Linked DNA regions of Homo sapiens: region 2 is linked to region 1. Evidence: fine-mapped expression QTL. A gene starts in region 1. The other region holds a variant in brackets. All regions are shown on one strand. Distances are between the middles of the regions. Region 1 holds the start of NLE1 (notchless homolog 1). Region 2 overlaps UNC45B (unc-45 myosin chaperone B).

Region 1 (11,853 bases):
CATACCTCCAGCAGTGGGGAGCTCCCTCCTCCTCAAGACAGCCAGGCGGGCCTGGCGCAGTGGCTGATGCCTGTAATCCCAACACTTTGGGAGGCCAAGGTAGGCAGATCACAAGGTCAGGAGTTCGAGACCAGCCTGGCCAACATGGCGAAACCTTGTCTCTACTAAAAATACAAAAATTAGCTGGGCGTGGTGGCAGACGCCTATAATCCCGGCTACTTGGAAGGCTGAGACAGGAGAATTGCTTGAATCCGGGAGGCAGAGGTTGCAGTGAGTTGAGATCATGCCATTGCACTCCAGTCTGGGCAACAGAGCAAGACTCCATCTCAAAAAAACAAAACAAAACAAAACCCAAAAAACAAAACAAAACAAACAACAACAACAACAAAAGACAGCCAGGCAGCTTAATCAGAAAACATTTCCCTCTCCCTGCCTGAAATGTGTTCCCTGTAACATTGCCCAGCCCTGGAACCCTTGAGATGAAATCCAATCCTTCTTCCTTGTGACAGCCTTTTAGGAATTTGAAGGCAGCTCTCTGACCCACCTGGGAGTTGCCTTTTCTGGGCTAAATATTGCAGCTTCCCTCAACTGCTCTTCACAGGATATGTTTCCAGTCCCTTCTCCAGCTTGTTCTCTCCCTTCTGAAGTCACTCCATACTCACTGTTTCTTCCCCCAAAATGGTAACTAGATTAAAACCCAGGCCATGCAGAGGAGAATGTGACAGGGCAAGCTTGGAGGTGGGAGGGGCTCACCTCTGGAGGCATCTGAAGCTGCCTGGACGTAGCTCTCCTGAGGAAAGGGGAAGGAGAAGGAGACTCGGTTAATGTGGGCCCAATGCAGAGATGGCCAGAGAGTGTCCCCACAGTGTGGGGAGAGGGTTTCCTGGGGGAGCTGCAGGCTGTCAGAGGCCCAGGGCATGCTCCTCACAGGCATGGCAAAGAGGACAGGCTTTGACATCAGGCAAACCCAGGTTTGAATCTCGGCTCTGCTACTACTTGGGAGAGCTTGGGCAAGTTAATGAATGAAGCCCTCTGGATCCCGAGTTTCTTACCTGCGATAGGGGGAGGACAACAACAGCTATCTCACGGGCCATTAGTAAGATGCCATGAATAACACATGAAAGCACCTGGCATTGGGCTGATTCTGCTCTGGATGAATTTCTGTCTTTCCGGGGCATGGGTCAGGGGGTTGGAGGCACCCTTCTCCAACCCCAGGCATCCAGGAGAGTCGGCTGGGATGAAGGGCAATTTCTATCAGGGTGAAGGGGCTGCCACTCAGCCCCAAAGCCCCTCTGCCTCACTCCCACCCTGTGCCCTGCCCTGCCCCAGACCGTTTTCAGGCCACAGGCTGCCCGGTTCCGATAAAGCGTGGCCAGCAGGGCCTTGTCCTTGGTCAGCTTCAGGGCCTGGCTGTAGCTATTTGTGGCGGCCTTGTAGTCCTGGAGCTGGAAATGCCGGTTTCCTTCCTCCTTCAGCTGTACCGCTTCCACCTCTGCCATCTGCTGGGACAGGAGAAGCTCTGTCTGGTCAGCCCCTCACTGCAGACCCAGGGCTGGGCTCCTGGCCTGAGGTCCGGAGCTCCAGGGTCCCCTCACACCAGAGAGGATGGTGGGGATTCTGCCTGGAAGGGACCCACCCCCAGAACCCCCAAATCTATTGCCCCATGAGGACATTATAGCATTTGCTCAGAGCTTGGCCCAAGTTGAGAGTCCCTGTGCCTCACTCTCTGTCCCTCCCAGCCTGAGCAGGCGAAGCTGCTTAGTTTGTGCCAAAGGCCTGAACTCTCATTGCAGGTCTTAGAAGTTTGCCGTCTCCCTCCCCAGTCCAGGGCACACCCCAGGCCCATGCTCACTTTTTCAGCAAGGACGATGCTTTCGATCTGCCCTCTTGTGATGCTGCTCCCCTGAGCACTCCTGTGTCAACCTCCAGCCAGCCAGCCTCAGTCTGCCCCTCCCAGCCCCCACCCAAGAGATTTTCTTGCCTCAGCCAGTGGCTCTGGACCATATTTGGCCACAGGGGCAGGTGCCCCTGGAGTCTGTCACTGATACTCAGGGCCCTCCCCCTCCCCAGACTGGTCAGTCATGACCACGTGGAGGTGCTGACCAGCCTCCGCCCAAGCACCCCACTCTGGGTTATCCTGGTGGGGGGCTTAGGCACTAACATTCCAAAGAGTGACAGAAAGATCCAGAAGGGACAGGAACCCCCCAGCAGACTCCCTCCCTGGGCACAGCTCTAATGCACCTCTCCACATCTATCCCAGATAAACAGCTTCCTCTCCCTCCCCTCAACCATTGCTATTTTTGGGAGCAGAGTGACAGCTGAGGGGCTGACAGACTGGGACACACAGCAGTTGCCCAGATCCCAGACCAACTGGAGAGTTCCAGAAATACCTTTCTGGAGGGAGCGGGGAAGGAACAGGGGAAGAAAGTTCCTTCCCTTTTCCACTTCTGCGCAACACCTCAACCCACCCTGCTTTCACCTGTTCAAAATGTCTTTGCTTTTCAGAAAGACCAACAGGACTTGCTAACTCAGTTTAGTGTGAGTGAGTGGTTCGTTAGTTTCGGTCCACATGCGGTCTCCTGTTCCTCCCCCTGTGTATAGAGTGGATCTATTCAGCCTACCTCTCCCATCTGACTGTTAGCTCCCAGAGAGTGGGCTTTGTGTATCCCCCATCAGGCTGAGATCTCTTAGGGCAAGGGCTGGGTCAGACTGGGAATTCCCCCGAGACCAAGGGTCCTCCCCACCCGACTGGAAACTATCCTGGGACACACTGAGGCTCCCTCCTCAGAAGGGGGTCTTCCTGGGACAAGAACTATGTATTCACCATTGCAGAGGGGTCTCTCCTGAGGCAGGAATGTTTCTCCTTAGCTAACTGGGAGTTCCTGAAGCAAATTTATGACGTTGTCCCCAGTTGGACCCAGAACTCTTCTGCATTTCAGTGCCCTCAAGCCTGGGCTGTGAGCTTCCTCCTGGAAGGCAAAGACAGCATCCCATATAGCTTGTCCCCCAACCCCCTTCCTGCACAGGTTCTGGCACATTCAGTGTCCGAAGTGTGTTTCCTGAATGGAATGAATGGATGGATGAATGAATGAATGAATGAATGGTGTCTTCATGATGATGATTTCCTCCACTCACCTCTCATCCCTCTCCCCTCCACCCCACACATATCTTCAAACTTATCTGGCCAGAGCTGAGAAAGACACTGAAGAAAATCCCAGGTGGAATCATTCATACTAGATTCTACTCGCAGACCTGTGACCTTGGACACACAGCTATATGACCTTGGACAAGTTGTAGCGCCCTGCTGGACACAAAGCCCAGCCCTAACACATGTTTGTTGAATGAGCAAATAAATGAATGAATAGATGGATGAATTCCCTGCCTTCATGTTATCACAAGCCCTGGGCCCTTTTGTGGGGCAAGCTCTCTGCAGCAATGAGGTAATAGGATAAAGGATCCTGACATTGGCAGAGACCTGCGGTTCTGTGACTTTAGGTCCAAGGGATCTTATATTCAAATGCTGATTCAGTAATTCATTCCACAAGCATTTCTTAAACATCTTTTTGTTGTTGTTGTTGTTGTTGTTTGAGACAGAGTCTTGCTCTGTTGCCCAGGCTGGAGTGCAGTGGCACGATCTCGGCTCACTGCAACCTCCACCTTCTGGGTTCAAGAGATTCTCCTGCCTCAGCCTCATGAGTAGCTGGGATTACAGACATCCACCACCATGCCTGGCTAATTTCTGTATTTTTAGTAGAGATGGAGTTTCACCATGTTGGCCAGGCTGATCTTGAACCCCTGACCTCGTGATCCACCTGCCTAGGCCTCTCAAAGTGCTGGGATTACAGGCGTGAGCCACCGCGCCTGGCCCACATTTCTTAAACATTTATTATGTGTGAGGAACTGTGAAGCATAGAACACTGGTGAGGACAAGGATTTGTGTCTATGTTGTTCCCTCACATATTCCAAGCGTTTGTAATGGTGTGGGGCACAGTGGCTGACACCTGTAATCCCAGCACTTTGGGAGGCCAAGGCAGGCGGATCACCTGAGGTCAGGAGTTCCAGACCAGCCTGGCCAACATGGCGAAACTCCATCTCTGCTAAAAACACAAAAGTTAGCCGGGCATGGTGGCGGGTGCCTGTAATCCCAGCTACTAAGGAGTCTGAGGCAGGAGAATCACTTGAACCCCAGAGGCAGAGGTTGCAGTGAGCCAAGATCATGCCACTGCACTCCAGCTTTGGTGACAGAGCAAGATTCCATCTCAAAAAAGAAGAAAAAATAAAAAGAAGGTGCTCAATGCTATTTGTTGAATGAATGAATGAATGAAATAATTCCATGGATCTGTGATTCTGTGATTTCTTTTTTTTGTTCGTTTGTTTGTTTTGGTTTTTTTTTTAATTGAGACAGGGTCTCGCTGTCACAAGTGGAAAGCAGTGGCATGATCACGGCTGACTGCAGCCTTGACCTCCCAGGTTCAAGCAATTCACCCATCTCAGCCTCCTGAGTAGCTGGGACTATAGGTGCATGCCACCTGGCTATTTTTTTTGTAGAGACATGATCTCACCATGTTGCCCAGTCTGGTCTCAAACTCCTGGGCTCAAGTGATACTCCCACCTCGGCCTCCCAAAGTGCTGAGATTACAGGTGTGAGCCACTGTGCCAGCTGGATCTGTGATTTCTAAATGTGAGGAATACCAGGATGTTTTGAAAACATACAACAGGGAAATATGACATCATATGACATCATTTCAAAGGTTTCCCTGCGTAAGTGATAAATGAGTTGATACACATAGAACTCCGACAACGTCTGGCAGAGAGTAGGCACTCAATACATTTATTGGATGAATGAATAAATATTCAAGGCAAGACCTGAAGAATGAGGAACTATTCCTGTATTAGTTGGCTCTGGCTACCATAACAAAATAGCACAGACAGGGAGGCTTCAACAACAGAAATTTATTTTCTCACAGCTCTGGAGTAGAGAAATCCAAGGTCAAGGTGCCATGAGGGTTGGTTTCTGGTGAGGCCTCTCTTCCTGGATGCAAACAGCCACCTTCTCACTGTGTCCTACTATGGCCTCATCTTTGTGTGTGCTCAGGGAGGCAGTGCGGGGGGCGGGGAGAGACAGAGAGAGAGTACTCTGGAGTCTCCTCATTTCACAAGGGCACCAGTTCTATCTGATTAGTGTCCTACCCATACAAACTCACTTATTAACCCTTCCTATGTCCTTTCAGGGCCCATCTCCAGGCCAGGCATGGTGGCTTACACCTGTAATCCCAGCACTTTGGAAGGCCTAAGACAGGAAGATCATTTGAGGCCAAGAGTTCGAGACCAGCTTAGGCAACAGAGTGACAGCCTTGTCTCTACAAAAATTTTTAAAAGTTAGCCGAGTGTCAGGTATAGTGGCACACACCTGTTGTCCTAGCTACTCAGAACACTAAGGTAAGAAGAGCACTTGAGCCTGGGAGTTTGAAGCTGTGTGAGCTATGATCACACTACTACACTCTAGTCTGGGCAACAGAGTGAGACCCTGTCTCTAAAAAAAAAAAAAAAAAACAATAATAATAATATATGCTATCTCCAAATACAGCCACATTCAGAGCTAGGGCTTCAATATATAAATTAGGGCAGAGGCGTCCAATCTTTTGGCTTCTCTGGGCCACAGTGGAAAAAGAATTGCCTTGGGCTACACATAAAATACACTAATGATAGCTGATGAGCTGAAAAAAAAAATCGAAAGAAAATCTCATAATGTTTTAAGAAAGCTTACGAATTTGTGTTGGGCTGCATTCAAAGCCATCCTGGGCTGCATGCAGCCTGTGGCCCAGGGGTTGGACAAGCTTGAATTAGGGGAAGGGCACAATTCACTCCATAACAGTTCCAGACAGAAAAAACTGCATGGGCAAAATCACTGATGCAGGAAGAGCCATGCCTTGTAAGAACTCAGAAAAAGCCAGCAAGATTTAACCTAAAGAGAGGGGTGGCTGGACATAGCAAGGCTGAATTGACCATTATAAGGAGTGTTCTTTTTTTCCTGCATGTAAGGGAGCCGTCGCAGGGTTTGAGGGTGAAGAGCAGCAGGCCAGATTTTTGGTCTGAAAAGATAACCCTGGCTGCATCGTGGAGAATGGGTAGAAAGAGGCAGGAATGGAAATGGGGGGGCTCATCGGGAGGCTGTTGTAGCGGTCCAGGCAGGTGATGATGGTGACTCTGACCAGAGTGAGGCAGTGGAGATGGGGAGAGCAGATTCAAGCTGTGTTCATGAGGATGACTTGGCAGAGCTTGAGACTGCCTGAGCAGTGGAGGGAGAGAGAGGAGAGTTGGCAAGGGAGATCCTTCGTTTCAGGCAAAAGAGCTCAAGTTCATTGCTGTCTGCTTCAGTTCCTCAGTAATATGGGGAGAAAAGGGTTGTAAGAATTAAATGAGTTATGTGGGAAAGCACTTAGAACAATTCCTGACTTGTTGATGTCATTATCACTATTATTGCTTTACAGCATTGATGATTGTAGAAATGATTTGCTTTTGTACTCGAGTATTATTGAGTTGATCCATTTTATTTATTTATTTATTTATTTATTTATTTATTTATTTATTTATTTATTGAGACAGAGTCTTGCTCTGTCATCCAGGCTGGAGTGCAGTGGTGAGAGCTCGGCTCACTGCAACCTCTGCCTCCCAGGTTCAAGAGAATCTACCACCTCAGCCTCTCCAGTAGCTATGACCACAGGCGCATGCCACCACGGCTGGTTAATTTTTTTGTATTTTTAGTAGAGACCTGGTTTCACCATGTTGGCCAGGCTGGTCTCGAACTCCTGGACTCAAGTGATCTGCTCGCCTGGGCCTTCCAAAGCGCTGGGATTACAGGTGTCAGCCACCACGCCCAGCCTTGACTTGATCCATTTTTAAAAGGATACTAATTTCTAGGCTAGGCGTGGTGGCTCACACCTGTAATCCCAGCACTTTGGGACACTGAGGCTGGGGAGTGGGGGACTTGCTGCTTGAGTTCAGGAGTTTGAGACCAGCCTGGGCAACATAGTGAGACCTCGTCTCTACAAAAAATGAGAAAAAAATAACCGGGCAGGGTGTCATGTGCCTGTAGTCCAGGCTACTCTGAGGCTGAGGTGGGAGGATCGCTGTGCCAGAAAGTTCGAGACTGCAGTGAGCCGTGGTGGCACCACTGCCCTCCAGTCTGGGCGACGGAGTGAAACTCTGTCTCAAAATGAAATTAAATTAAAATGGGGCAAGAATCCCTGTTGTGAAGAGTCAAAAGTTTACTGTGTCCTCTAAGACCCTGGCGAAAAATAAATGTGAAGGCTGTTGAGGGGCGGGAGGAGCACCAGGTAAGCCCATTTCTAATCCCTGAGGCCGTGCGCAGCGGGACGCTTCTCCTCCCCAACAGCAGAGGGCGATGTGGCCGGCGGCGACCCCGCCCGACCACGGAGACGGCGCTCTGTCTGCCGGGCTCTTTCTCCTCCACGTGGGGACGCAGGATGGCGGCAGCAGTGCCGGTGGGTGTGCGTGGATGGGGGCGGGGGGCGTCGCCGCGGGGCGCTAGGGCCCGGGTCCCTGAGGCCTGAGAGAGGCGAAGTGGGGCCCTTCTGGGCGGGCGACCAGACTGACTCCCGCCCCACTTGCTCGCGCAGGACGAGGCGGTGGCGCGCGATGTGCAGCGGTTGCTAGTGCAGTTCCAGGATGAGGGCGGGCAGCTGCTGGGTTCCCCGTTCGACGTGCCCGTGGACATCACCCCGGACAGGCTGCAGCTCGTGTGCAACGCGCTACTGGCCCAGGTAAGTGGCTGGCCAGGGCGGCCTCGCATCTCCACCCCCGGGCGGATGCGGTGGGGGAATCATATTACCGAGGGTCTGCGGTTCATGGTCCCCCGCTAACGGACTGTGGTGACCCACCTGGCGTGAGCTCCCACCTATGTCAGAGATGGAATCAGTGGCATAGCGCTTTACACGCCAACCAAAGGGGTCCACCTGCGGAGAGGGGCCTAGCTTTGAACGCACCGGATGCTGTATTTCATTGATTCTTTGTCACAGTCCCCCAGTCTGGGACACGTTAATATCCCCATTTTACAGCGTGGCCCGGAGGGACTCAGTATTTTGCACGATGCTATGTAGTAGGTAGCAGATTTGGAATTGGAACCCAAAACTATCCGAATACCCATGCTTTTATTTATTTATTTATTTACCTTTTTTTTTTTTTTTTTTGAGACGGAGTCTCACTTTGTCGCCAGGCTGGCAAGCTGGAGTGTAGTGGCGTGATCTCTGCTCACTGCAATCTCTGCCTCCCAGGTTCAAGCGATTCTCCTGCCTCAGCCTCCCGAGTAGCTGGGACTACAGGCGCGCGCCACCACACCCAGCTAATTTTTGTATTTTTAGTGGGGACTGGGTTTCACCACGTTGGCCAGGATGGTCTCGATCTCTTGACCTCGTGATCCTCCCGCCTTGGCCTCCAAAGTGCTGGGGATTACTGGCGTGAGCCACCGCACCCGGCCTTTGCTTTTAACCTTTAAGCCAGTGTGTTTACTGAAGAGCTGCCCTGGGGACAGGGGAGGTCCTTAAAATTGCAGTTCCTGGACCCCATCCCAGCCTTACTAAACCAAACTCTGGGATGAAGCAGAAAGTCTACATTTTTTAACAGGCGTTTTGGGAGCTTTTTACACAAATATAGTGTAGTGTGGTAGTTTGGGAAACACTGCATAATGCTATATGCTAATCCTATCTTGGACGTAAAGAACCTGAATTAATCATTGGCAATAGGACATTGAACTAATTACTTAGTTGTTCTGAGCCTCTGCTTTTGAAAACTGTCAGTGGGAATATTAGTATCTACTTCCCACGGTTGTTATGAGATGCAGATAAAGAATTTCAGGCCGGGTGCAGTGGCTTATGCCTGTAATCCCAGTACTTTGGGAGGCTGAGGTGGGCAGATCACTAGAGGTCAGGAGTTCGAGACCAGCTTAGCCAATATGGCGAAAACAGTCTCTACTGAAAATACAAAAATTAGCCAGGCGTGGTGGCAGGCGCCTGTAGTCCCAGCTCCTCGGGAGGCTGAAGCAGGAGAATTGCTTGAACCCAGGAGGCAGAGGTTGCAGTGAGCTGAGATCTCACCACTGCACTCCAGCCTGAGTAACAGAACGAGACTCCATCTCAAAAAAAAAAGAAAAAAGAATTTCCAAGTGCTGTGTAAGTGTCCTGCAACTGCTGTTCAGTGACTTAAAAGGTCTTGCTAGGCTGGGCACAGTGGCTCACGCCTGTAATCCCAGCACTTTGGGAGGCCGAGGCAGGTGGATCACCTGAGGTCAGGAGCTTGAGACCAGCCTGGCCAATGTGGCGAAACCCCGTATCTACTAAAAATATAAAACTTAGCCAGGCGTGGTGATGGGTGCCTGTAATCCCAGCTACTCGGGAGGCTGAGGCAGGAGAATCTCTTGAACCCAGGACGCGGAGGTTGCAGTGAGCAGAGATTGCTCCACTGCACTCCAGCCTGGGTGACAGAGCGAGACTCTTGTCTCAAAAATAAATAAATAAATAAATAAAAGGTCTTGCTCAATGGGCAATGATGGGGGTATCCCTAGCACGATGGCTGAAAAGAAGAAGCTTCACCTCCCACAGCTCAGTGGGGAGCATCCCTGGCAGAGGGTGCCCCTGCACATCCATTGTTGCGGGTTTGTCCTTTACCATTGTCCTTCAGGAGGATCCCCTGCCACTGGCTTTCTTTGTCCACGATGCTGAGATCGTCTCCTCACTGGGGAAGACGTTGGAGTCCCAGGCAGTGGAGACAGAGAAGGTCCTAGACATCATCTACCAGCCACAGGCTATCTTCAGAGTCCGGGCTGTGACTCGCTGCACCAGCTCCTTGGAGGGTCACAGTGAGGCAGTCATTTCTGTGGCCTTCAGCCCTACGGGAAAGTAAGGACAGCTGCAGACTCATGGAGGGGGTATGTGGGGGTGCAGTCTTTGCCTGGTTTGGGGAGGGTCTCCCAGAGTTATAATTGATGGGGCCTCAGGGCTGCCTACCATAGACCCAAGCTCTGGACTCAGCTTGCAATTAAGGGACTTCCTCAGTAGGGCATGGTCCCCAAAGGCTGCTTAAGGACCCCTGCCTTGGACAAACCTCTCCTAGACTTGATTTTTCAAGATCTGAGCTGTGTGACTTGTATAAATCACTTAACCTTTCCGAGTTAATTTTTCATCTGTGAAACTGGGATTAGTTGCTTCTCTCAAACTTAGAAAGGTAATGAGAAGCTTCAAAAGCTGGTTATAGCTGTGGAGAGGAAAGAAATGGCCTCCTGATGTATTCTCCCAGAGGACAGCATCAGTATTGTCTTTCTCCCTTCCAGGGGCGAGGAAAGAGTCCAGTTCCATATTCTATTCACAGAAAGTGATTGAATAGGTGGCACAAATGCACATGTGCAGTGTCAAGCATCCTCTCTTCTTCCCCAGGTACCTGGCCAGTGGCTCTGGAGACACCACCGTGCGCTTCTGGGATCTCAGCACAGAGACACCACATTTCACATGCAAGGGTCAGTATGCAATTAGCCATTTAGGGGGTCTTCTTTTTTTTTGAGACAAGGTCTTGCTCTGTTGACCAGGATGGAGTACAGTGGTGCAGTCACAGCTCACTTGAACTCCTGGGCTCAAGCCTTGAACTCCTGGGTTCAAGCAGTCCCCCTACTTCAGCCTCCAGAGTAGCTGGGATGACAGGCACTTGCCATCACACCTGGCTCGTTTTTTGTTTTCATACAGATGAGGGTCTCACTTTGCAGATTACAACCCCTTAATATCCAGTTGGCGGCTGTCTGTTCCTAGGTAGAGACCATGTCCTTGAGCCCAGCCAGCCACTTAGACACAAGCAGAAACTGCACCAAGGAGTCAATATGGGACATGGTGAGAGGCTGACTGACTGCTACCAAGGAGAACCTGGTTTAAATCCTGCCTCTGCCACAGTGGTTTTCAAACTTGAGCACAAATCAGAATTGCCCCGCCTCAGGGGCTTGTTAAAATGCAGATTGCTGGCCAGGCGTGGTGGCCCACACCTGTAATCCCAGCACTTCGGGAGGCCAAGGCAGGCAGATCACTTGAGGTCAGGAGTTTGAGACCAGCCTCGCCAACACAGTGAAACCCCATCTCTACTAAAACTACAAAAATTAGCCGGGCATGGTGGCGTGTGCTTGTAATCCCAGCCACTGGGGAGGCTGAGGCAGAAGAATTGCTCGAATCTAGGAGGCGGAGGTTGCAGTGAGCCGAGATGGCACCACTGCACTCCAGCCTGGGTGATGGAGTGTGACTCCATGAAAGAAAGAGAGAGAGAGAAAAGAGAAGAGAGAAAAAAATACAGATTGCTGGGCCCCACCCCCAGAGGTTTAGTTCTATTGGGCCTGGGGTAGGGCCTGGGAATCTGCATTTCTAACAAGTTCCCAGGAGATGCTGATGCTGCTGCTCTGACGACCACACTTGAAGAACCACTGCTATACCACAGATTAGTTAAGTGACCTTGTGTGTGTAGGGCATGTTCCCTTTCTAAGCTTCAATTTTCTCATCTGGAAAATGGGGATGATAATTCTTGCTTTGCTCCATAGCTTAGAGCTCTTGTGAGAAATAACAAGGGATGACATGTACAAAAACACTTCATAGCATGTGTCACATAAGGAGTCATTAGAGAGTGATGGTGTTATCCATGCAGCAAGATGCAGAGCTCTAACACTTGGGGTGCATTCTATCCATCCCCAGAAAGCCTCATCGCTCCTTTTGTTCAATCATTCATTTATTCAAATGGTTAAGGAGTACCTGGCACCTGACAGGCACTGCTGGGCACTTGGGATAAAGACAGATGTAGTCCCTTATTTCT
Region 2 (11,128 bases), 27 kb before region 1:
ACCTAAATATTCCTTCAGCTTTTGGAAAAATAAATAATTCAATCAACAAATTTTTTACTTTCTGCCCAAGCCAAACTCAATCCTTTTGTTTGTTTGTTTTGTTTTGTTTTTTTGAGACAGAGTTTCGCTCTTGCTGCCCAGGCTGGACTGCAATGGCATGATCTCGGCTCATTGCAACCTCCTCCTCCTGGGTTCAAGCAAGTCTCCTGCCTCAGGTTCCTGAGTAGCTGAGATTACAGGTGCACGCCACCAGGCCCAGCTAATTTTTGTATTTTTAATAGAGACGGAGTTGCAGCCAAACCCAATCTTAACATCAGACATCTATTGAGCACCTACCATGAATCAATACTTTCTATATTTTCTCTAATTCTTGTGACAGTCTGCAAATTGAAAGTGTGATTTTCCCCCTATTTTACAGATGAAGAAGCTGTGGCTGGGAGATTAAGTATTTTGCCTGAGGTTATGCAGTCAGAAATGGGAAGAGCAAGAACTCAACTACAAGTCTTCTACATCAAAGTCCAGGGTCTGTCTTTGCACGGTGCTTCCTTCCAACAGCAAGGAGGATAGATGGGATTCCAAAGTACATACCATCATAGCATAAAGTCAAGCAGAAATTGGCTTGGGGCTATGAGCACAGACAGCGCAGATAACTGGTGGCCGTATTCCAGGAGGTCGAGTTGGGGCAGAGGGTACATAATTCTTGCGCTAGGCAAAGAGCATGCACAAAGGCACCTTCTAGGAAGGCACCTGCCCAGTTACCTTGCCACCACCTTGAGCCACAATGGTGCCTCGGTCCTTTGGGTTGTCACACAGTGCCAGGAATACCCTGTGGGACCGAGAAGAAAGGAGAACAGTTAATACACCAGCACACCTTCCCAGGCAGCAGCAGCAGCAGGCCAGCCAGTCGGAGCCAGTGAAACCCTGGGATGAAAAGGGAGACTATGGAAAGTGCCACTTGTGTGCCTGTGCCCCAGAATTAACCACTTTGGGAAGATGACATCATGGGAATAATTGGCTGGGAAGGAAGTGAGGCCAAGTGAGGCTGCAAAGAGCACTCCCCACTATCACTATTTAGGGATGCAACCACCCAGGAGAAGCTTTTCAACTTCAATGGATGTGCCCCAGGTCCTCCGTGATCTGGCTCTGGCTTCCTCTTTTGTCTCATCCAGCACCAGCTCTTCCTATGGATTCCCTGCCCCAGACATATTGCAGGAGAACCCCAAATTCACTCATTCTCTCTCCATCCTCAGTGTCTTTGCAGATGCTATTCTCTCTGCCTGGAACCTTCCCTCTCCTGCATTTAGGTGGCTCCTTTGCTTCCTTCAGAGCTTGAGTTGTCACATCCCCCAGGAGGCCTTACCAGCTGCCCACCCACCTCCCCTCCAGTCTGGCTGGTTGGGGAACACTGCTTGTGCTCCAATCAGCCCTTTATGCTTCCCACATCATGGCATCCATTGCATCGGACTGTAGCTGTGATCTTGCCTGCCTCCCTGGCCAGGCTGCACACAGACTGTGCCTTTAATCTCTGAGAACAAGGTAACAAGAAGGAACAGTGGCCTCCTTTCTCCTGATACAAACTTCCACCTGTGATGACCTGCCCAACATACCACTTCTCTTCCTTCCTTTCCTTCTTTCCCTCTTTCTTTCCTTCTCCTTCCTTCCTTCCTTTCCTTTCCCTTTCTTTCTTTTCTTTTTTCTTTCTTTCTCTTTCTTTCTTTCTTTCTTTCTTTCTTCTTTCCTTTCTTTCTTTCCTTCTTTCCTCTCTCTCCTTCCTTCCCTCCTTTCTTTCTTCCCTCCTTCCTTCCCTCCCTCCTTTCTTCCTCTTTCTTTCTCTTTCTTTTTCTTTCTTTCTTTTTCTTTCTTTCTCCTTCCTCCCTTCTTCTTTTCCCTTCCCTCCTTCCTTTTTTCCTTCCGCCATCCCTTCCTTTCTCTCTCTCTCTCTCTTTCTCTCTTTCTTTATTTCTCTTTTGTATAGAGACAGGATCTTGCTCTGTTACCCAGGCTGGAGTGCAGTAGCACCATCATCATTCACTGCAGCCCTGAATTCCTGGGCTTAAGTGATCCTCCTGCCTCAGCCTCCCAAGTAGCTGGCAGTACAGGTGCACACCACCGTGCCAGGCTAATTTAAAATTTTTTTGTACAGATGGGGTCTCAATATGTTTCCCAAGCTAGTCTTGAATTCCTGGGCTCAAGCAATCCTCCCACCTGGGCCTCCCAAAGCCCTGGGATTACAGGCATGAGCCACCACCCCTGGTCCCATGTCACTTTTCAAAGCTGATCCCCTCAGACCTTTCTCCAGGCTTTCCCAATAGTTTATCTCCTCATTTAGGCCCCCACCATTTCTATCTCCCTGCCCAGTGTGCTGCACTCCAGGACCCTCGGCCCCCAGCCCTAGTTCCAAGCCTTGGCCCACTGCAGCCCCACCTGGCCAGCAGCTCCTTGGTCTGGTCAGTGAGGATGGCACTATCTGCTTTCACCATGCAAGCCAGGGCAGAGATGACACCCGCCTTCAGAAGCCGCTTCACCCGCATGTCTATAAAGTCCTTCTTGTCCTGAGGAGATGAAAAGATGGCAATGTGGGAGGGTCCTGGGTGCCAGGCCAATCGGTATTGGAACCAAAGATGGTGCATTTCTGAATTCTTGGGGTTGGTTGAATAATGGCCTCCAAAGATGTCCATGGCCTGGCCAGGCACAGTGGCTCATGCCTGTAATCCCAGCACTTTGGGAGGCTGAGGCGGGCGGACCACGAGGTTAGGAGATCAAGACCATCCTGGCTAACACGGTAAAACCCTGTCTCTACTGAAAATACAAAAAATGAGCCAGGCGTGGTGGCGGGCACCTGTAGTCCCAGCTGCTCAGGAGGCTGAGGCAGGAGAATGGCATGAACCCGGGGGCAGAGCTTGCAGTGAGCCGAGATCGCACCACTGCACTCCAGCCTGGGCGACACAGCGAGACTCTGTATAAAAAAAAAAAAAAAAATCCATGGCCTAATCTCTGGAACCTGTGAACGTGGGACCTTACATGGCAAAAGGGATTTTGCAGACACGATTAAGTTAAGGATTTTGAGATGAGGGGGTAAGCCTAGATTTCTGTGTGGGCCCAATATAATCACCAGGATCTTTATAAGAGGGAGGCAGGAAGATCAGAGTTAGTACTAGGAGATGTAACAATGGAATGGAAGTGAGGTCAGAGTGGTTCAAGGTCACCAGCCAAAGCATGTAGGTGGCCTCTAGAAGCTGAAAAAGGCAACAAAATGATTCTCCCTTAGAGCCTCCCAAAGAAACCAGCCCTGCTAACACCTTGACTTTAGCCGAGTGAGACTCATTTTAGGACTCTTGACCTCCAGAACTATAAGATTTTTAAAACCGGGCCAGGCGTGGTGGCTCCCGCCTGTAATTCCAGCACTTTGGGAGGCTGAGGTGGGTGGACCACTTGAGCCCAGGAGTTCGAGACCAGCCTGGGCAACATGGCGAAACCCCGTCTCTACTAAAAATACAAAAATTAGCTGGGCATGGTGGAGCGTGTCTATAATCCCAGCTACTCAGGAGGCTGAAGCAGGAGAATTGCTTGAGCCCAAGAGGCGGAGGTTGCAGTGAGCCAAGATTGCACCACTGCACTCCGCCTGGGCGACAGAGGGAGACTCAGTCTCAAAAAAAAAAAAAAAAAAAGTATAAAAATTGCGTTTTAGGCCACAGTGCGTGTGGCAATGTGTTCTAGAAACAATAGGAAACTAAGACACTTCTCCAGATTCCCTCTTCCCAAGCAACTGCCAAGGGGTATACAGCACGCCTTGCTGTCGTGTGTGATTGTCTCTCCTCTCTTCTTCCTTGCCTTACCTAATCCCAAGACAGAGCCTGAGGAGCTGATACCGTAGAAAACCAGTCCCAAAGATTCTCTCATTCACAGAGGAATGAAATAAAAGACGGATAATCCAAAAGACTAAATGATGCGTATATTGTTTTTCTTGGAGAAGGCTGAGGTGGGAGTGGAGGTAGAGAGAGGGTATAGGCAGGAAAGGACACAGTGGATGAAGCCGCCATAACAATGGATTGGGTTTGCTGGAAACCCAAAGTCAACCCAGGGTTAAAGAGTCCCTACAGATAATCCTCAGAGTGAGGAGTGGTGGGGAAGGGGCTGACAACCCTGGGCAAGCCCTGGAAGCCACACTGGAACTTCACAGCCACAGCACATGCTCTGCACCCTTGCCTGGATGAAACATCATGCAGCTTTCAAAAATGATTCAGAGGCCAGGTGTGGTGGCTCATGCCTGGATTCCCAACGCTTTAGGAGGCCGAGGTGGGTGGGTCACTTGAGGTCAGGAGTTTGAGACCAGCCTGACCAATATGGTGAAACCCTGTTTCTACTGAAAACACAAAATTAGCCGGGCATGGTGGTGCATGCCTGGAATTCCAGCTACTTGAGAGACTGAGGCAGGAGAATCACTTGAACCTGGGAGGCAGAGGTTGCATTGAGCCGAGATCTCACCACTGCACTCCAGCCTGGGTGACAGAGCAAGACTCTGTCTCAAAAAATAAATAAATAAAATAAAAATGATTCAGAGAATGAGATGGCAATGTGAAAAACATATTTTTCCAAAATTGGGCACAAAATGATAAATATATTCTAATTATAACTGTGAAAGGAAAAAAGATACATAGAAAAAAAGCCTCTGGTAGGTAACATAACATCAAAATGCCAACAGCAGTCATGTGGAGATGACGTAATCATGAGTGGTTATTTTCTTTTCCCCACATTTTAACTCGTTTTGCAGCATGATTATATTACTTTGATCATTAAAAAAATCTAAATGATTTTATTGGCTGGCAATATCTTGCATATATTCTTAAACAAATCACACACAAATCATATCTTCATGTGCAGGGAATTGTTGGAGAGGGTTCCAGGGGATCTGTGACTTCTGGGCTAATGCTGACCATGCCTCTCCTCTCATGATTCCTACTTAGCACCCATGTCACAAAATCCAGAAATCTGAGAAAATCAAATTGTTATCTGTTGGAGACATGAAATAAAACTGTCTTTTATCCATAAAATCAACAACACAAATTGCAAAGTGTCCATCATGGCTCTGTTTGTTTTCTCAGACTATAAATTGTTGGATTTTTTTCAAAATAGAAAATAAAAACAAAGAAAAAGCATGAGCACCATCTGG[T/G]GGGAAAGTTTACCATTAACATATTCAATGTATGTGTATCTTACCCCCAACCACCCAAACACACACCGTGCCACTCCTGACACCACTCCTTTTGCCGTTCCGCCTCCTTTGGAGGCCTAGTGGCACAGACCAGACCCCTCCCGGGTCGCGCCTGACCCTACCTTGGGGTGTTCCTCGGGCACATGCTGCTTGGAGAACTTGGCGAGCTGGACAAGCTCTGGGATGACCTCCTTGACATCGTAGCTGTTGGTGCAGTTCACCAGGGTGGTGGCCACCGAGTACAGGATGGTCTTGTCACTGGTCTGGAAGGCACAGGGTTGGGGAGAGGGAAAGCAGAAAGGAAACTTTAGGACAAACCTCTGCTTCCAGGATGCTCCCTCACGTGGCCGGCAGGTTGGTGTCGGAGGAGTGCAGCTGGTAGGGCCCATTCTGAGGAAAGACAGCAGCGCAGGAGAGGAACGGTTCTCCCCATAAAGGCAGGCAGCAGTGTCTCCTGCACCCTCCACAGTAGCTCTGACAGTATGAATAGGAGCTGTCCCACAAAGATCCTCGCTTTGCGCCTCTTCCACAAGCCCAGTCTAACACTTTCCCATCCAACTGGAGATGGGGTGGGAGCTGGACATTTTCCGGTCCTGGTGAAAATCTCTCCCATGCTTCCTCCATTTACTGGTAGAAAAGGGCCAGGGAGTTGGCCCAGCAGATGAGGAAAGGAGTCTGGGGGGGCCTGGGAGGGAGGGCAGGTTCCCAGAAAGGCCAGGCACAGCCTCTTTTATTTATTTATTTTCTTGAGGCAAGGTCTCTCTCTGTCACCCAGGCTGGAGTGCAGAGCTGGAATTCTAGCTCACTGCAGCCTCGATCTCCCAAGGCTCAAGCAATCCTCCCACCTCAGCCTCCCGAGTAGCTGGGATTACAGGTATGTGCCACCACGCCCAGCTAATTTTTGTATTTTTTGTAGAGTTGGGGTTTCACCATGTTGCCTAGGCTGGTCCTGAACCCCAGAGCTCAAGCCATCCGCCCGCCTCAGCCTCCTGAAGTGCTGGAATTACAGGCACGTGCTACGATGCCCTGCTTTTTTTTTTTTTTTTTTTTTTTTTAGCTGCCTCAGGTCCTTCAAGACCTCACCTCCTGAGGGCCCCAGGAAAACAAACTGCCCTCCTGTGCATCTTCCCATCTCTGGAAGGCATTGGGAGTCGGGAGTCCATTTTACAATCAGGTAAAATGAGGGCCAGAAAGGGGGAAATAACCAATCATGTTTATACAGGGGTAAGGAGTAGAGCCAGGAGGAAGACTGGGATCCATTCCCTGTGGGTCTGGACCCAGCAGACCTTTCCTGAGGTTTGTGGTCGGGCCAGACTCCCCGACACCTGCCTTGGCCAGCTCAAACATGGCCTGCAGGGCAGGGACGTCCTGGACAAAGTCGTCCTTCACATCAGCGTCCAGCGTGAGGTAGGCCAGGCCCTCCACTGCCCAGCGTCGGGTCCGAGTGTCTATGGACATATTGCACAGCCACCTGGAAGTGAGGAGGGAGCACACATGGGAAGGGGCCCAGGGCTAGGTCAAGAGGGTGAAGCGATTTCAGGGTGGTGAACCAGGGGTGAGGTCCCTTTCACACTCCACTAGAGCACACCCCAGAGACTCTTGCCCGGAAGGCGCATGAGGAGATGGAGGGCCTGGGAAACACAGCCCCCTTACTTGCGACACTGTTTGGCCAGTTTTTCTGTCGACCCTTCCGCAAACTGCCTGAGACCGTAGTCTGTGCCACCTGCAGAGCCGAGCTTACAGAGTCCCTGAGGAGGAGAGGAGACAGCAGACACATGCAGGATCAGAGACACCAAGGCTTGGGGATGAAGCCTTGCTCAAACAGGTTTCTATGGCCAGAACACTTCGCCCCTCTTTCTTTGCTTGGATCCACCTCTGTGCAGACTGTAAAACTCAGCTCAGGTGTCACCTCTGCTGAGATACTTTCCCTGATGCTCTGGGTTAGGGTAGAGGCCCATAAAGTTGCAAATTCTTGACCTGCCCCCTTCCCCCACCATTTTGACCCCACAGATGTATTGTGCCTGCCATTTTGAAAAACCAGCAAGACCAAGTTAACCATATCTGAAGCTTCAATGGGGAACCTTGTTACGGCACAGAAACTGACAGAGAAATCCTATCTTCTGGATAACAGATTCAGATGTGCAAAATTTTACCCAGAGAAAATTGGACTTTTCTTAGGGGGGCGGTTTCATAAGAGAAAATTCACTTTTGTCAGAAGCTAGAATTTGTTTTTAAAAAATTGATGCTGGGTGCGGTGGCTCACGCCTGTAATCCTCCCAGCACTTTGGAAGGCCGAGGCGGGTGGATCAGTTAGGCCAGGAGTTTGAGACCAGCCTGGCCAACGTGGTAAAACCCCATCTCTACTAAAAATACAAAAATTAGCAGGGTGTGGTGGCAGGCATCTGTAATCCCAGCTACTTGGGAGGCTGAGGCAGGAGAATCGTTTGAACCCAGGAGGCGGTGGTTGCAGTAAGCCGAGATCATGGGGGTTGCAGTGAGCCAATATCATGCCACTGGACTCCAGCCTGGGCTACAGAGGGAGACTCTGTCTGAAAAAATAATAATAATAATAATTTCAGGCCAGGCACAGTGGCTCACGCCTGTAATCCCAGCACTTTGGGAGGCCCAGGGGGGTGGATCACCTGAGGTCAGGAGTTCAGGACCAGCCTGGCCAACATGGCGAAACCCCGTCTCTATTAAAAATACAAAAATTAGCTGAGTGTGGTGGCACACGTCTGTAATTCCAGCTACTCTGGGGGCTGAGGCACAAGAGTCACCTGAACCTGGGAGGCGGAGGTTGCAGTGAGCTGAGATTTCGCTGCTACACTCCAGCCTAGGTGACAGAGTGAGACTCCATCTCAAAAAAACAAAAAGTAAAATGAAAGTGGAAAAAAAATACCTTATAGAAACTGATTAAGGAAAGTGACTCTTCAGAATTTGCTCTGAAAATGCATTCTGGACACAAGCTCCTCAGTGTTCATGTTGTTCATAAGCAGGGAGACGAACGTCCTCAGGGTTAAGCAGCAGAGTTCACGGTTCTGAATCTACATCCTCACAAGCCCCCTGGATATTGCCCTGTTCTGCAGGGGTCTGTGGCTGGGTCTGGTGCCCCCTTGAACCTGGTCTCCTCAAGGACAGCAGCCTCAACTCATTCATTTTGGTGTCCCTGGTGCCTGGCATGGCACCTTGTACTGAGTAGGAGGGTGGTACCGAGCCCACTCACCACCAGTGTGCGGATCTTGATCTTCTCATTTTTGGTGGTCTTGTAGATCTGTTTGAGCAGTGACACTCCATTGGTGATGATGAAGGTGGCGCGGCTGAGCTTCGTGGAGGCATGGATGAGGGCCTCCACGGCCACCAGCTGGTCCGTCTCGCGCTCTGAGCCACATAGTGCCACCATCATCTCCATCACACCTTTCAGTCCCAGCAGCTGGTTGCCCAGGTCAAAGGGGCCCTGCAGGATCCCTGACACTGTCTGGATGGCATTCAAGTTCTTGTCCATGTCCTGGGGGTCAAACTTGCCCCTAAAACAAAGGACAAGGGTGGTCAAGAGAACTGGTCCAAGAGAGTGGAAAGAGTGTGAGATTTGGAGGCAGTAGGATTTGGATTTGCATCCTGGCTCCACCACTCATGTGCTGTGTGATATTGGGCAATTCAGCGAACCTCTCTGAGCCTCAGCTCCTGTAAACTGAGGATAGTACTACTAGTTCTCAGAGTTGTGGTGAGGATAAATGACATAACAGCTGTGTCACAGAGTGTGCCTCTGGGAAATACACTCTGACTCAGGGATTGACATGCAGGAAGTTTATTAGAGAGAGCTCTTGGGAAGAGAAGGAAGCAGGACTGGGGCAGAGGGAGGCATTTTGCAGCTATCACAAAGCCTCAGCCTCCAAGAAGTTCTGGAGCTGGAAGACCCTTCACAGTTGTTCCAAGTTAGAGTGAGTCTTTTTCTTTCTTTTTTTTTTTTTTGAGACTGAGTCTTGCTCTGTTGCTGGAGTGCACTGGTGCCATCATAGCTCACTGTGACCTCAAACCCCTAAGCTCAAGCAATCCTCCCACCTCAGCCTCCTGAGCAGTTGAGACTACAGGTGCACACAATCATGCTCAGACAATTGTTTAAATTTTTTTGTAGAGATGGGATCTTGCTATGTTGCCCAAGCTGATCTCAAACTCCTGGCCTCAGATGATCTTTCCACCTGGCCTCCCAAAGCACTGGTATTATAGGTCTGAGTCACCTCAACTAGCCTGGTGTGAGTGTTTGCATACTGGCTTCCCTGGGAAGGGTGAAACAGCTCTCCCCAGGTGAGACAAGTCCCAAAGAGAGATAACAGCTGAGAGCTGTCAGCTGACAGCCTTTCCAGCAGCTGCTGTGTCTGGGAGGACAGTACAGCATTGACAACAACACAAAAAGGCCTAGCGTGATGCCCGGCACACTGTGTCTCTCTGTGACATGGCCTGGGCCAGTCACTCCCCTCTGGTGATCTGGTCTTAGTCCCTTCCCCTGTTGGTGAGCATGTGGGCTAGATATCCAGGAACGTTCTGCCTTGCTTTCAGAATCTATTATCATCTACTCTAGGGGAGAATCTCTGCGTGGGAATGTCAGAGGTGACATGCCTTCTGATGCTTCTCATCTGCCCAGGTTGGTGCATTGTGGGAAACAGGGCAGATGTGCACAGTGGAAATGCAGCTGTGTATAAATGCAAGAAGGCAGCGTGGACTGGTCAGGAGAACTCCACACCAAGAGTCCAAGACCTGGGCTCTGGTCCCATGTCTGCCTCTGATTGCTGGAGGATCTCAGGCAAGTTCCCCTGGGGAAGAGGACTCAGCTTTGGAAGCTCTGACAGCCCCTCCAGCTTGAGCATCCCATGTCCTGTGCCTCATCTCTCCACTCAGTGCCCAGGGAACCAGCATCCTTCGTAATTAGTTGCGGTCTGACCTTTGAGCTGGCACTGGGTCCCCACACAGCCCCCGCCCCTGATGAAGCGGGATGTATTCCACTCTTGCTAGGGGCAGGCTGGGGCACCATTTGATGAAGGCAGTGACCCCTCCTCTCAGCATTCCACAGGCTGACAGGAGGGAGCCTCAATCAACAAGCCCAAACAAGAACTAGCTGGATGACAGGTAATGGGAGTCAGTTGGGGACCTCATGAGGGACTCAAGAAGTCAGCAGGAAAAGTTGAAACTGAGGTAGAGAAAGACAGAAGCCTTGAAAAGACCTAAGTGAACCAAAGTCAGGGTGAGCAGAAGCCGTGGGGTAGAGAAGGAGTTGGCAAATCCAGGGAGTTGAGAATAGCTTTCACATTATTTTATTTTATTTGAGACGGGGTCTCACGCTCTTGCCCAGGCTGGAGTGCAGTAGTGCATTCAAGGCTCATTGCAGCCTTGACCTCCTGGGCTCAAGTGATCCTCCTACCTCAGCTTCCCAAGTAGCTGAGACTACAGGGGTGTGCCACCACACTTGACTCATTTTTAATTTTTTTTTTTTTTTTTTTTTTTTTAGAGATGAGGGTCTCTCTACATTGCCTGGGTTGGTCTCAAACTCCTGGTCTCAGGCAATTCTCCCACATCGGCCTCCCAAAATGCTAGGATTACAGGCATGAGCCACCACACCTGGCCAGCAGCTTTTTGCCTTTCTTTTTTCTTTTTGAGATGGAGACTTGCTCTGTCACCCAGGCTGGAGTGCAGTGGTGCGATCTTGGCTCACTACAACCTCTACCTCCTGGGTTCAAGCGATTCTTCTGCCTCAGCCTCCCTAGTAGCTGAGATTACAGGCATGTGCCACCATACTCGGCTAATTTTTGGTATTTTTAGTAGAGATGGGGTTTCACCATGTTGGTCAGGCTGGTCTTGAACTCCTGACCTCAGGTGATCCGCGCTCCTCGGCATCCCAAAGTGCTGGGATTACAGGCGTGAGCCACT

What was found.
Region 2: its variant is fine-mapped to the expression of NLE1 in whole blood (INTERVAL, PIP above 0.99). The same link has a PIP of 0.9 or more in blood mononuclear cells.

The regions. Positions count from the first base shown.
Region 1 is chr17:35,137,910-35,149,762 of GRCh38, reverse strand. NLE1 (notchless homolog 1) reads left to right here and starts at 7,460. Exons shown (of 13, transcript NM_018096.5): 1 at 7,460-7,505; 2 at 7,641-7,784; 3 at 9,697-9,914; 4 at 10,449-10,528. The coding sequence starts at 7,488. It overlaps UNC45B (unc-45 myosin chaperone B), which reads right to left and starts at 1,946. Exons shown (of 20, transcript NM_001267052.2): 1 at 1,853-1,946; 2 at 1,332-1,499; 3 at 754-790. The coding sequence starts at 1,499. RefSeq lists an enhancer at 7,152-8,029.
Region 2 is chr17:35,165,666-35,176,793 of GRCh38, reverse strand. It overlaps UNC45B (unc-45 myosin chaperone B), which reads right to left. Exons shown (of 20, transcript NM_001267052.2): 10 at 8,433-8,733; 11 at 6,863-6,957; 12 at 6,539-6,680; 13 at 5,332-5,472; 14 at 2,425-2,552; 15 at 760-826. Among named protein-coding and RNA genes, the nearest start is that of SLC35G3, 23 kb to the left of the region's middle. The variant T/G (reference allele first, on the strand shown) is at 5,171.